2 separate regions of the Homo sapiens genome follow, and region 2 is linked to region 1. The links come from fine-mapping of genetic effects on gene expression. A gene starts in region 1. The other region holds a variant in brackets. All regions are shown on one strand. Distances are from middle to middle.

The links.
Region 2: its variant is fine-mapped to the expression of C10orf88 in blood mononuclear cells (TOPMed, PIP above 0.99). The same link has a PIP of 0.9 or more in whole blood.

What each region holds. Positions count from the first base shown.
Region 1 is chr10:122,951,239-122,956,625 of GRCh38, forward strand. It overlaps C10orf88 (chromosome 10 open reading frame 88), which reads right to left and starts at 2,989. Exons shown (of 6, transcript NM_024942.4): 1 at 2,777-2,989; 2 at 1,591-1,794; 3 at 716-788. The coding sequence starts at 2,940. It overlaps LOC124902519 (a long non-coding RNA gene), which reads left to right and starts at 3,204. Exons shown (of 2, transcript XR_007062325.1): 1 at 3,204-3,330. RefSeq lists a silencer at 2,705-2,784.
Region 2 is chr10:122,930,858-122,936,244 of GRCh38, forward strand. C10orf88 (chromosome 10 open reading frame 88) reads right to left here. Exons shown (of 6, transcript NM_024942.4): 6 at 44-1,804. The coding sequence ends at 1,570. Among named protein-coding and RNA genes, the nearest start is that of C10orf88, 21 kb to the right of the region's middle. The variant G/T (reference allele first, on the strand shown) is at 3,214.

The DNA of each region.
Region 1 (5,387 bases):
TAAATGGGTTTTTGCCATCACAGTTTATATAGTTTTTAAAAATGTTTTTTGCTCAATTTCCCAACACTTCAAAATACACAGCACTACCATATTAACAATACATTATCCAAGGTTAATAAATAGTCAAATTTTATTTTTATTATTTTTTTAGTGAGATGGGGTTTCACTCTGTTGCCCAGGTTGGTCTTGAACTCCTGGGCTTGAGCAATCCTCCCACCTCAGCCTCCTGAGTAACTGGGATTATAAACATGTACCACTGCACGTGGCTCATGGTTAAATTTTAAGAGAAAAAGTCTACTCACTGGTCACCGGGTGAAAAATTTAAAAAAAAAAAAATTTCTTAATTCAATGTTAAAAAGGGCTGATAATTTTTTAGAAAAGTAATTTCTTTGTACATGTTTACTAAGTATTTCTGAGCCTCATCTCTACTAAAAATTTAAAAAATTTGCCAGGCATGGTGGTGTATGCCTGTAGTCCCAGCTACTTGGGAGGCTGAGGTAGGAAGTTAGCTTGAGCTGGGAGATGACGTTGCAGTGAGCCATGATTGTCCCACTGCACTCCAGCCTGGGCAACAGAGCAAGATACTGTCTTGAAAAGAAAAAAAAAAGCAAGCAAGCAAGTTGGACTAATTGTATTACTAATCCAAAAGAAAACAAGCATACACAGAGTACAAAAACAACTTAGTTGTCAAATTAGTTTACAACTGACAACTTACCTTTATTTTACAAGCATGTGTGGAGGACTCCAATTTTAGATTTTTTTTATACAAAATGATCTTTTCATGTTCACTAAAAATAAAAAAGAATTAATTTTTTTTACTTACATATATTGTCACTTTTAATAGTTACACTTAAAAATAAATGTTTCCAGAACAATATTGAAATCCTAAGATTCAGTTTTCCTGGTGAGGCATGAAGAGTTGGGCTCCATAACTGAAGCACACTGCCTATGATTACATCTACCACTTACTAGGCTCAATGAGAAAATTACATTATATAACATATGTACAACCATGTAGCCAGACTGTATTTTAAAGCTCAATAAACACAGCAATTGTTTCCAACATGCAGGATATAAAACAGTTCATATTTTGTGTTAAAGACAGATTGGAGAAAAATCTTCGTAAGAAAAAAAATCACAAGTTGCGTTACAGGTTAATAAATAGGTTTATGTAGCACAGTCTTAGATCCCTCCACCATTTCTAATAGGCTTCCAAGAAGAAAATGTATTCAAAGTTCCAGACTGACTACCAAATTAACTTTCGGAAGACAGACTGCTGTGAGTTTAAGGAAAGAGACACACTTCTCAAAATTTCATTCTAATAAAACTCTTCCACTAACTAGCTATGACCTCCTACCAATTCACCTTGATTGTTAGTTCTAAATTTCAACATTTATAAAAATAACTAGGCTGATCTACACTGTCTTTTAAGATCTCTAAAGTTGTAAACTTCTATGCCTACTGGCACATTTTTATCTTCTCTCCCATAACATATGGTATCAATATCAGAGAATCAATAATTATTGCAAAAAGTGAGAAAAATCAAAACACTACTTCAGAAGAACACTTTCCCGTGTACAAGTCACACACCTGTCATCCAGGACAGTACAAACATTCTTGCCCCTACTGGTTCCACAGTACTCCTCTCCTAAGTACACTTCCATATTTCTTGCTGAACTTAAAATGCCAATAGAAGCGATTTCTTCACCTCCATCAGGGCCACACCTCAGGTAAAGGAAGCAGGGGTTTTCATCTTTGTTGTTGTGGTTTCTCTTCAAAATCACCAGATCCTGACTGAGAAGAAAATTGGTGAAAACATCACACAGTATAGTTCTCTGAACATGACTCTTCTTTTTTGAGACGGAGTCTGGCTCTGTCGCCCAGGCTGGAATGCAGTGGCTCCATCTCGGCTCACTGCACGCTCCGCCTTCCGGGTTCACGCCATTCTCCTGCCTCAGCCTCCCAAGCAGCTGGGACTACAGGCACCCGCCACCGCGCCCGGCTAATTTTTTGTATTTTTCGTAGAGACGGGGTTTCGCCGTGTTAGCCAGGATGGTCTTGATCTCCTGACGTCGTGATCCGCCCGCCTCGGCCTCCCAAAGTGCTGGGATTACAGGTGTGAGCCACCGTGCCCGGCCGGGGCTTCTTTCTTCTAACTCACTTCCACTTGCCCTTGAGGTCCAAGCACCTTCCCAAGCATCCAAGAAGCGCTCAACACAGAATTCATACGGAAATGAAGGTGTCACACATCAGGGCTTTCCCAAACTCTATTTTTTCCTCAATCAACATTCTACTCAATCCCCTGCAATTGACTCTCGGATAATTACATAAATCACTGGGCACCTACTGGGTGCAGGGCACAATGAAAGACAAAAGTGTATCTTTTTCGAAATTAAGTCGACAGCGATCATCTATAGCTGGACTTTTTACACAGCCTGTTTTGGTGGACAGGAGGTGTCTTGTTTGAGGGTAGAGGGGCGGACTGACTTTGACAGCAGCCCTGAGGGGCTATCACGCCTGATGGGGACGTTATATGAAATTCCGAGTCCGGGTCACCTTCCCCCTCTCACGCCCAGGAGCCTCGGCCCCTTCCCGGCCGGACCCACCCCCCTCCGCCCACCCCGGACGACCTCGCAGCTCCCCTCCCCAACTAGAGACCTGGTACCAACTGCTCTCCCGGATCCCGGGCTCAGACCCTCTCGCCTCCCCTCACAGCTCCCCTAGAAGCGCGGCAGTTGCCGAGCATAGCGACCCCGTCCCCGTCGGCCCGGCGCACCCTGGAGCAGGCGGTGCCAGCAGCTCCTCCCAGTCGAAGTCACCGGGGCCGAGACCGGCCCGGGTGAGGAGGAGGCTGTGGGTCAGGGCCCCGCCTGCAACATCCCAAGAAGAGGCCAGCGTGGGGCGGCGGGTGAGGCCCCCGTCCTCGGTCCGCGTCTCCATTCCGCCGCCTTCAGTCAGGCCAGCCCAGCCCCGGAACCTCTCTTCCAGTGCTTGAATTTCCGCCGGTACAGCGTGGAAATGGGCAGGCAAAGCGACTTCCGGCTCACTCCGCTTCAAGTACCCGCCGCTTCTTGCTTTGGTGGGGAGAGCAGGCACCAGAGACACGCATGCGCATGTGCCAGCTGGCCTCAGGCGCGGCGTTCAAAGTGTGCGGGGAGGAGGTCGAGAGCGGAGCATGCGCACTGGCAGACCCTTGCTCTTTCGCTGGAGACTATGCGCAGGCGCGGTGCACTGCGCGCCGGCACGAGGGTGTTTTCGACGTTGGCTGTGGGGAAACAGCAAGCGGCGTGGACGACCGTTGCTGAGCTGGTGTGGAACGTCTGTGATCAGGTAGGTGTAGTCTCGTCGCTCTACGCTGCGTGCAAGACCGACTCCTGACCTCGTTCTTTCCCAAGGGGACGCCAGGGCCTTTTCTGCTTCCATTCCGTCGGATCTGCAGCATTTGTGGCAGCTAGCGCGGCGGACGCGCTGCCGATTCGGGTTATTTTTACTTCGAATTCTCCTAGCCTCCCTCACACATATTCTCGCTTTAGAGGGGGGCTGAAGCGGATGATGGGGTTTTGGGGTTGAAGGGCATCTGTGATGGGCATTGAGCCACGCTGGCCTTCGCCGGGTGCTGTCTCAGCTGACGCCCCCTGACCCCATGTGCAACCCTCAGGCCGCAGGAACCCGGGCATCCAGGGCTGGACGCTCTAGGTGACAGAAATTTGAAATGCAAGAAAGACCCAGACACCGAAGGCAGGGGCTGCCCCATGAGATCGCTCCTCATGGCACTGGAAACAGCGAGTGGAAAGGGGGGGTCTCAGAACTCTGTTGAAGTAGAATATGAACTCAGTCTTGAAGGAACTTAAGGCTACGGATGCAGAACAGTGGGAGCAGATGGAACTTTCTAGATGCCCCACGGGATGGGACTGTATATAGTGTGCCCCCTCATCCTCCTCCTGTAGAGGCTTGTGCAGATTATTTTTCTGTCTTTTGAAAAAAGCAAACTCTGAAATTCCACTTGTCTATAATCTAGAGTTCCAAAGTTGTGTTTAAGGTGGTATCCTCTCTAGGAAATAACGTTTTTGCTCACCCATACTCTAATTTTCTTTCAGAGCTGTCTATTCTGGGTTCATGACTCAGTGCGCATTACTTTAATCTTTTTGCTTATGTTTTCGTTTGAGTTTATGTACTAGGACTTGTGCCCTCTAGCTAAAAATGAGAATAAACTTTGCATTCTGTTTACCTGTGTCAAAGCAAGAAAAATGATGACCAAATGTATTTTTCTATAAGTAATCACCAGAATGTACGTATGGTAGGTGAATTCACCAAGATTGAAAGAGAGAAATGTCACCAAAGGTCTATCATAGCAGAATTGTAAAGTCCTCGTTTGCAAAGATTTTTTTAATATTTCAGACTCATTCTAAGTTGTCCTTGTCATTATTTTTGTCCTGTATGTCCTGCTTCCTGTGGTTGTAAGTTAACTTTGATCCACATTAATACATGTGGACAATCCGAAGGAAAATAGGCTCTTCAGAAACTAATCTGCAATTTCATGAGCAATAGCAATATTATAAACTGGATTTTGACTTCCTTAAATAAAGCTGAATGTCCAGGAATCAGAAAACAAAAGATTCCTATGGTCTATCCTTTCCTTTATTTCCATACAGCCAATAAACCACCAAGTCTTCATTTTCTTAAAGAAAAATTTTCCTATCTCTGCTTCTTCTGTTTCCAAGCACTAGCTTTATCTGAACAATTCCAGGAGTTTGTCAGTAGCTTTCATTTTGATTCCTTCCATTTCAGTCTTTGCACTGCCCTCTTCTCCTTCTGGTGATCAATGTTCCTGACTGAATCAACACCTTCACTCCTTAGCATAGCATGCAGAGTCCTTTGTACTTTGAACCCTGCCTACCTTCCAGTTTCCTCTACCTAGAATGCCATTTTTTTCAATAGTAGGAAAAATCCTATTTATCATGCGAAACCAAGCTTACTTCATCCTGCTACAGAATTAAACAAATTCCTCTGTGCTACAATTACCACTTTTTTAGGTAGTATAATTCTCCTTTGATGTCAGACTTTGCCTGTTTATATATCTGTGTTCCCTACTATCTGCATGCTTGCTGAGATAGACATTATGTTGAGTACAGGTTTGTTGTATGGAATTGATAGGTTGGTGACAGCTTTTATCACATAAACTAAGAGCAGCAGAAAAAGGAAAATTAGTACATTCAATCTTAAGCTTTTTTCCAAAGCCAGGATGGTTATGGTTCAAAGCTGACTTCAATCTTAATATGATACATTATTCTTGTCATGAATTACAAGTGAGTTTTTTGCTTTACTTTTCTCTTTGAAGTAAATCAGAAAATATAGTTGGTGATATGGTTGGCTGTGTCCCCACCCAA
Region 2 (5,387 bases), 20 kb before region 1:
CTTTCCCTGATGGGTGTCACAAAGCCAATACGTGAAACCAAAAAAGAGTGACAAACACTGCAGGTTTTATTCAATCGCCACTGAATTGAGAAGCAGGAGTATGGCTCACAAATCAACTTTTCAACTAATGAGGAGTGAGGGGGTTAAAATATAATTTTTCTAATAAAGGTGTTTCACATTCAAGCAAAGGGAGGAATATTCCTGGATTTTTCAGAAATGGGCAGTGAACTTCCTAAAACCAGAGTGCTGCCTTCCTTTTTGTCCTTTCATGGCTTCTTCTGGTCACTGTCATGGCGATTGTCAACTGTCATGGAGCTAGCAGGAGCGTTATTTAGCACAGAAATAAGATTATAAAAAGGCTGAGGTCTTTTTAAAGTCGTTTGGTCAGCTATCGTGGTTGTAACCAGTCTCCTCTGGACTGGTTACAAAAGGAACTTTTCATCACAGGCATCCTGTTTCTTAAAGATAAGCAGAGTTAGGGCAGGGTAAAAATTCAGCTATGTCACGCAGGAATTACATCAGGTAACATTTTTAAAGAAGAAATTTGCCAAAATATTAAATGAGTATGAGATACCCTTTTTCTAAAAAATAAGACATTTGAAGTAAAGATTAGTTGAAATAAAACAGTTCTACTAACTAAAGACAAGTAGTTCCCAGAGCAGGTGCATTTATTTTTATATGCAAATATATCACCCTTCAATGCATATACAATAGTTATAAGGTCTGAAAACTAAGTCTATCAGAGAGAATTGCAATCCCTTGACTCATATGTGTTCATCCTTCCATGGAGAGCCTCATTATTTCATACAATAAACATGCCAGAAAAGGATTCTGGGGAAAAAACCTGTATCAGCTCAAAAGGAGAGGTTTTCTTAAACTGTCTGGGGTTACTGAGGTCAAACAAGATGACTGCATCTGTTTTACAGGAAAAATCAAATCCAAAGTACTAATCGTAACAAGGACTAGGCTAGTTCTGATGTTTACTTTCCTACCTACAGCTACTCTGTAATGAAACAAATAATATTAACAACCCCAGAGTGAACTAAGTTTACACATGCCAAATATCACATCTTATTCATTATCTCACACAAGCAATACAAAATGTAAACTGGTAATCTGAAGTAAAGGCTCCAAGTCTTAAGTATCCAATTTTCCAAGATAATTAGAAAAAGAAAAAAATCAAATACTCTTAAGCATTATTTTTCATACTTCTAAGACTATAAGATCTTTGTATAAATAAAAATTATACTTAAACACATATACAATACAAACTAATGAACTGTATTAGAAATCCTCAAGCATTTTAAACTCTTAACACAAATATACATACATTTCTGTAAGACTGAAAAATATCGTGAGCAAAAATAATTTGACTGTATCATATTAACTCAGTGTACAGTACTGGATTTAAAATAACAAGTGTAGTAAAAACGAAAACTGAGGTCACTTTGTGTAAGACAATGATCCCTCAAAGGACATTAAATACTTGCTTTTTATAAATATTTTTGGGTTTTGGCTTTGTAATAAATATGTAATAAATATCTGCAGTACACTGTTTATGTTGAGAGCTTATCTTTCTCCATTTGAAAGTCTTTCTCCAGAGTCATAATGTCTTAGAGGTATCCCAGTGGGCGGGGAGTTAGGATTTTGCAGCAAATCCAGTAACAAAGCAATCTTATCATCAATGTGCTCCTGGAGTTCATGTATTCGCTGATCAATGTAATCCATAAGTTTCTTTTCCATCAGTTCCATATTTTTAGAAAGAATCTTTTCCAAGTAGGAGCAAATAGATTGCTCTTCCATTCTAAAAATACATTTTTAAAAATGTGTAAATTTTCCCTAATAACAAAAACAACCAAGCTTATAAAACAAGCAGCCAACATATATTGCTGAGATTTGTCTCCACAACTGTGCTCTGTCTTCTTACAATGCATTTCTAGGTCCTAATACACATCCACAATAGGCAACCACAGCCCTAAATGCCCAACACATTATTAATTCTTTTTTAGTATACAATTGAACAGAAATGTAAAAGTGAAAAGGAACCCTCAAAGAGCAAGTCTTTAGAAAGGGTCTTTTTGATTTTGAGGTCCAAATCAAAACTGATCTGGCCCAATTTTCTTCTAAAGTCAACATGCATATTTTCAAATACTTCCCCAACCAACTCTATAAAGTTTTTCTTCCTTCATACAAACAACCTTACTAAACTACTAGAAGGTTCTTTTTTTTAACCTGGTATAAAAACACTTCAGAATTTAACTAGAATGGGCAAACTAACAAAATAAATAAAAAGCACACCAATTTCTAACGTTCACAATGAACATTAGAACAGTAAGTCTCAGGGCAGGCACGGTGGCTCACGCCTGTAATCCCAGCACTTTGGGAGGCTGAGGTGAGTGGATCACTTGAGGTCAGGAGTTCGAGACCAGCCTGGCCAACATGGTGAAACTCTTGTCTCTTACTAAAAGTACAAAAATTAGCTGGGTATGGTGGTGGGCGCCTGTAGTCCCAGCTACCTGGGAGGATTGCTTGAACCCGGGAGACAGAGGCTGCAGTGAGCTGAGATTGCGCAACTGCACTCCAGCCTGGGTGATAAGACTCCGTCTCAAAACAAGAACAGTAACTCTCAGAATGTGGTCCACAGAACCTTGGGGTCTCCATGATTCTTTTGGGAATTCACTGAGGTCAGAAGTATGTTTATACTAAGATGTTATTCGACTTTCTCATCCTCATACTCATGAATTTTCCAGAGGCTACAAAATCTATGTTATTGCCCTGATGACTAACAGAATCTGTAGTTGTGTATTCTTCTTTCCTAAAATTTCAAGGTAGTAGAGATTTAGTGTATAAATATATGCTTTTTCAGAGATTAATCCACTCTGTTCTCAGTATTCCTACTGTGCTCTTACTAGCTATATTTCACTATACATGCTATAATTCAATATACATGATAATGCAGCCAAAAGCTATTATGTATAGATTCATGTACATTTAAAATAATACTATTCTCAATAAAATTTTAAAAGAAAATCTGGCTTTTTTTCATAAAGACTGTTATTTATGTTAATATACAGTGGGTTTATTGTTATTTTTAAACAAATATTTTTATGTAGCCTACATAAGTTTATTGGAGTCCTCAATTAAGAGTGTAAAGACCAAAAGTCTGAGAGCCACTACTCTAGAATACACCAAAGACAGTTTTTAAGAAACTCT[G/T]TATTTTGAAATAATTATGGATTCACAGGAAGTTGCAAAGATATTAGTTTCTCAGTGCCCTTTATCCAATCCTCCCAATGGTCACATCTTATCTACCTATAATCCAATATCAAAACCAGGAAATTGATATTAATATGATGTGTGTGTATAGTTCTATGCCATTTTATCATATGTACACATATTTATTTAAACACCACCATAATCAAAAGGCAGAACCATTCTTTAACTGCAATGATCTCCTCCCTGCTACCCCTCTATTGTCATACCTACTCCCCTAAAGTCTTCTTTCCCTAATACCTGGTAACCATCAATATGTTGTTCATCTCTACAGTTTTATTATTTTGAAAATATTATAAAGTGAGATCATACAGTATGTGACCTTTTGAGATTCTCTTTTGTCACTCAGCAAAATGCCTTTGAGAGATGTCCAAGTTGTTTTTTACTGCTCATCAGCACTGCGTGATATGGAGGTACCATAGTTTAACCATTCACCTATTGCTAAGACATTTTAGTTGGGACTTCTGGGATATTACAAAGAAAGCTTTTATTAATAACTGTGTACAAGTTTCTGTGTGGACCTGAGCTTTCATTTCTCTGGGATGTCCAGGAGTATAATTGCTGGGTTGTACGGTAACTGTATGTTTAGTTTTTAAGATATTGCCAAAATATTTTTTAGAGTGACTGTACCATTTTATATTCCTACCAACAATGTATGAGAGATCCAGTTCCCAAACATCTTTGTCAGCATTTGGTATTGTTACCATTTTTAAATTTTAGCCATCCAAATATGTAGTGATATATTGTGGTTTTAATATGCATTTCCCTAATAGTCACTAAGTCAATGTTGATCAACTTTCCTTGTGCTTATTTGCTATTTGTATATCCTGTCTGTTGAAATGACTATTCTTTTGCCCATGGTTTAAATTGGATTGTTAGGTTTTATTTTTATTTGCTTTTAACATAGAGTTTTGAGAGTTCTTTATGTACTTCAGAGACAGGTCATTTGCTGGATTTGTAATTTGCAAAGAATTTCTCCCAGTCTGTATTTTAATTCCCCTAACAGTGTCTTTCATAAACAAAAGTTTTACATTTTGATGGGGCCCAATAAATCAGTTTTTTATTTTATGGATCACGCTTTTGATGTCATATCTGAGAACTCATTTCCTAGTCCTAGGTCCCTAGAGTTTCTCCTGTAGAAAAGCTTTATAGTTTTATATTTTACATTTTAATCTATAAGTAATTTTGTGTTAATTTTTGCATAAAGTATAAGATTTAAGTCACAATTCATTTTTTGCCTGTGGATATCCAACTGTTCCAGCACAGGTTAAAAAGACAATTCTACCTGTATTGAATTATTTTTGCATTGTCAAACGTCAGTTGGTGTACTTGTGCAGAGTTATTTCTGTGCTATCCATCTATAAGTCTATGCCTCTGACAATAACACAGTCTTGAATACTGTGGCTATGTCTTGAAATCAAGTAGTGATTTCTCTTACACTTTTTCAAAATTTTTTATAGTTCCTTTATTTTTCCATTTTAAAAAATTCTCCATTTCTAAATTTTAGAATCATCTCATTCATATTTATAAAAAATCATGCTCGATTTTTCATAGGAATTACATTAAATTTATATATCAACTAGGAGAGAATTGACGTTTTTACTATGCTGTGTCTTCAAATCCATGAATATGGTATGTCTCTCCAGTTTTTAGGGCTTTTCTTTTCCTTTGTCAGTATTTTATAATTTTCATTTCACATATCCTTATATATTTTGTTAGGTTTATAAATTTTTTCATATATTTTATAAGTATTTTTTATAGATTTACATATTTTACATATATTTACATGCATTTTTGTGTATTTTAATTTTGGGGGGCAATCTAGTTTGGTGTCAGGCTAATACTGACTTCACAGAATGAGTTGGAACATCTTCCCTCCTCTTCTAGTTTTTAAAAGCATGTAAAATTGATGTTCTTTAAATGTTCAGTGGAAACCTTCAGTGTAGCCATCTGGGCCTGGATATTTCTTTTTCATGAGCTTTCCAATCATTAATCAAATATTTTTAGTGGTTATAGGACTATTTTATTACTTATTTCATGTTGGCTGAGTTTGGTTGGTAGTTTGTGGTTTTGGGGAAATTAATCCATTTCTCCTAAGTTGTCAAATTTATGAGCAT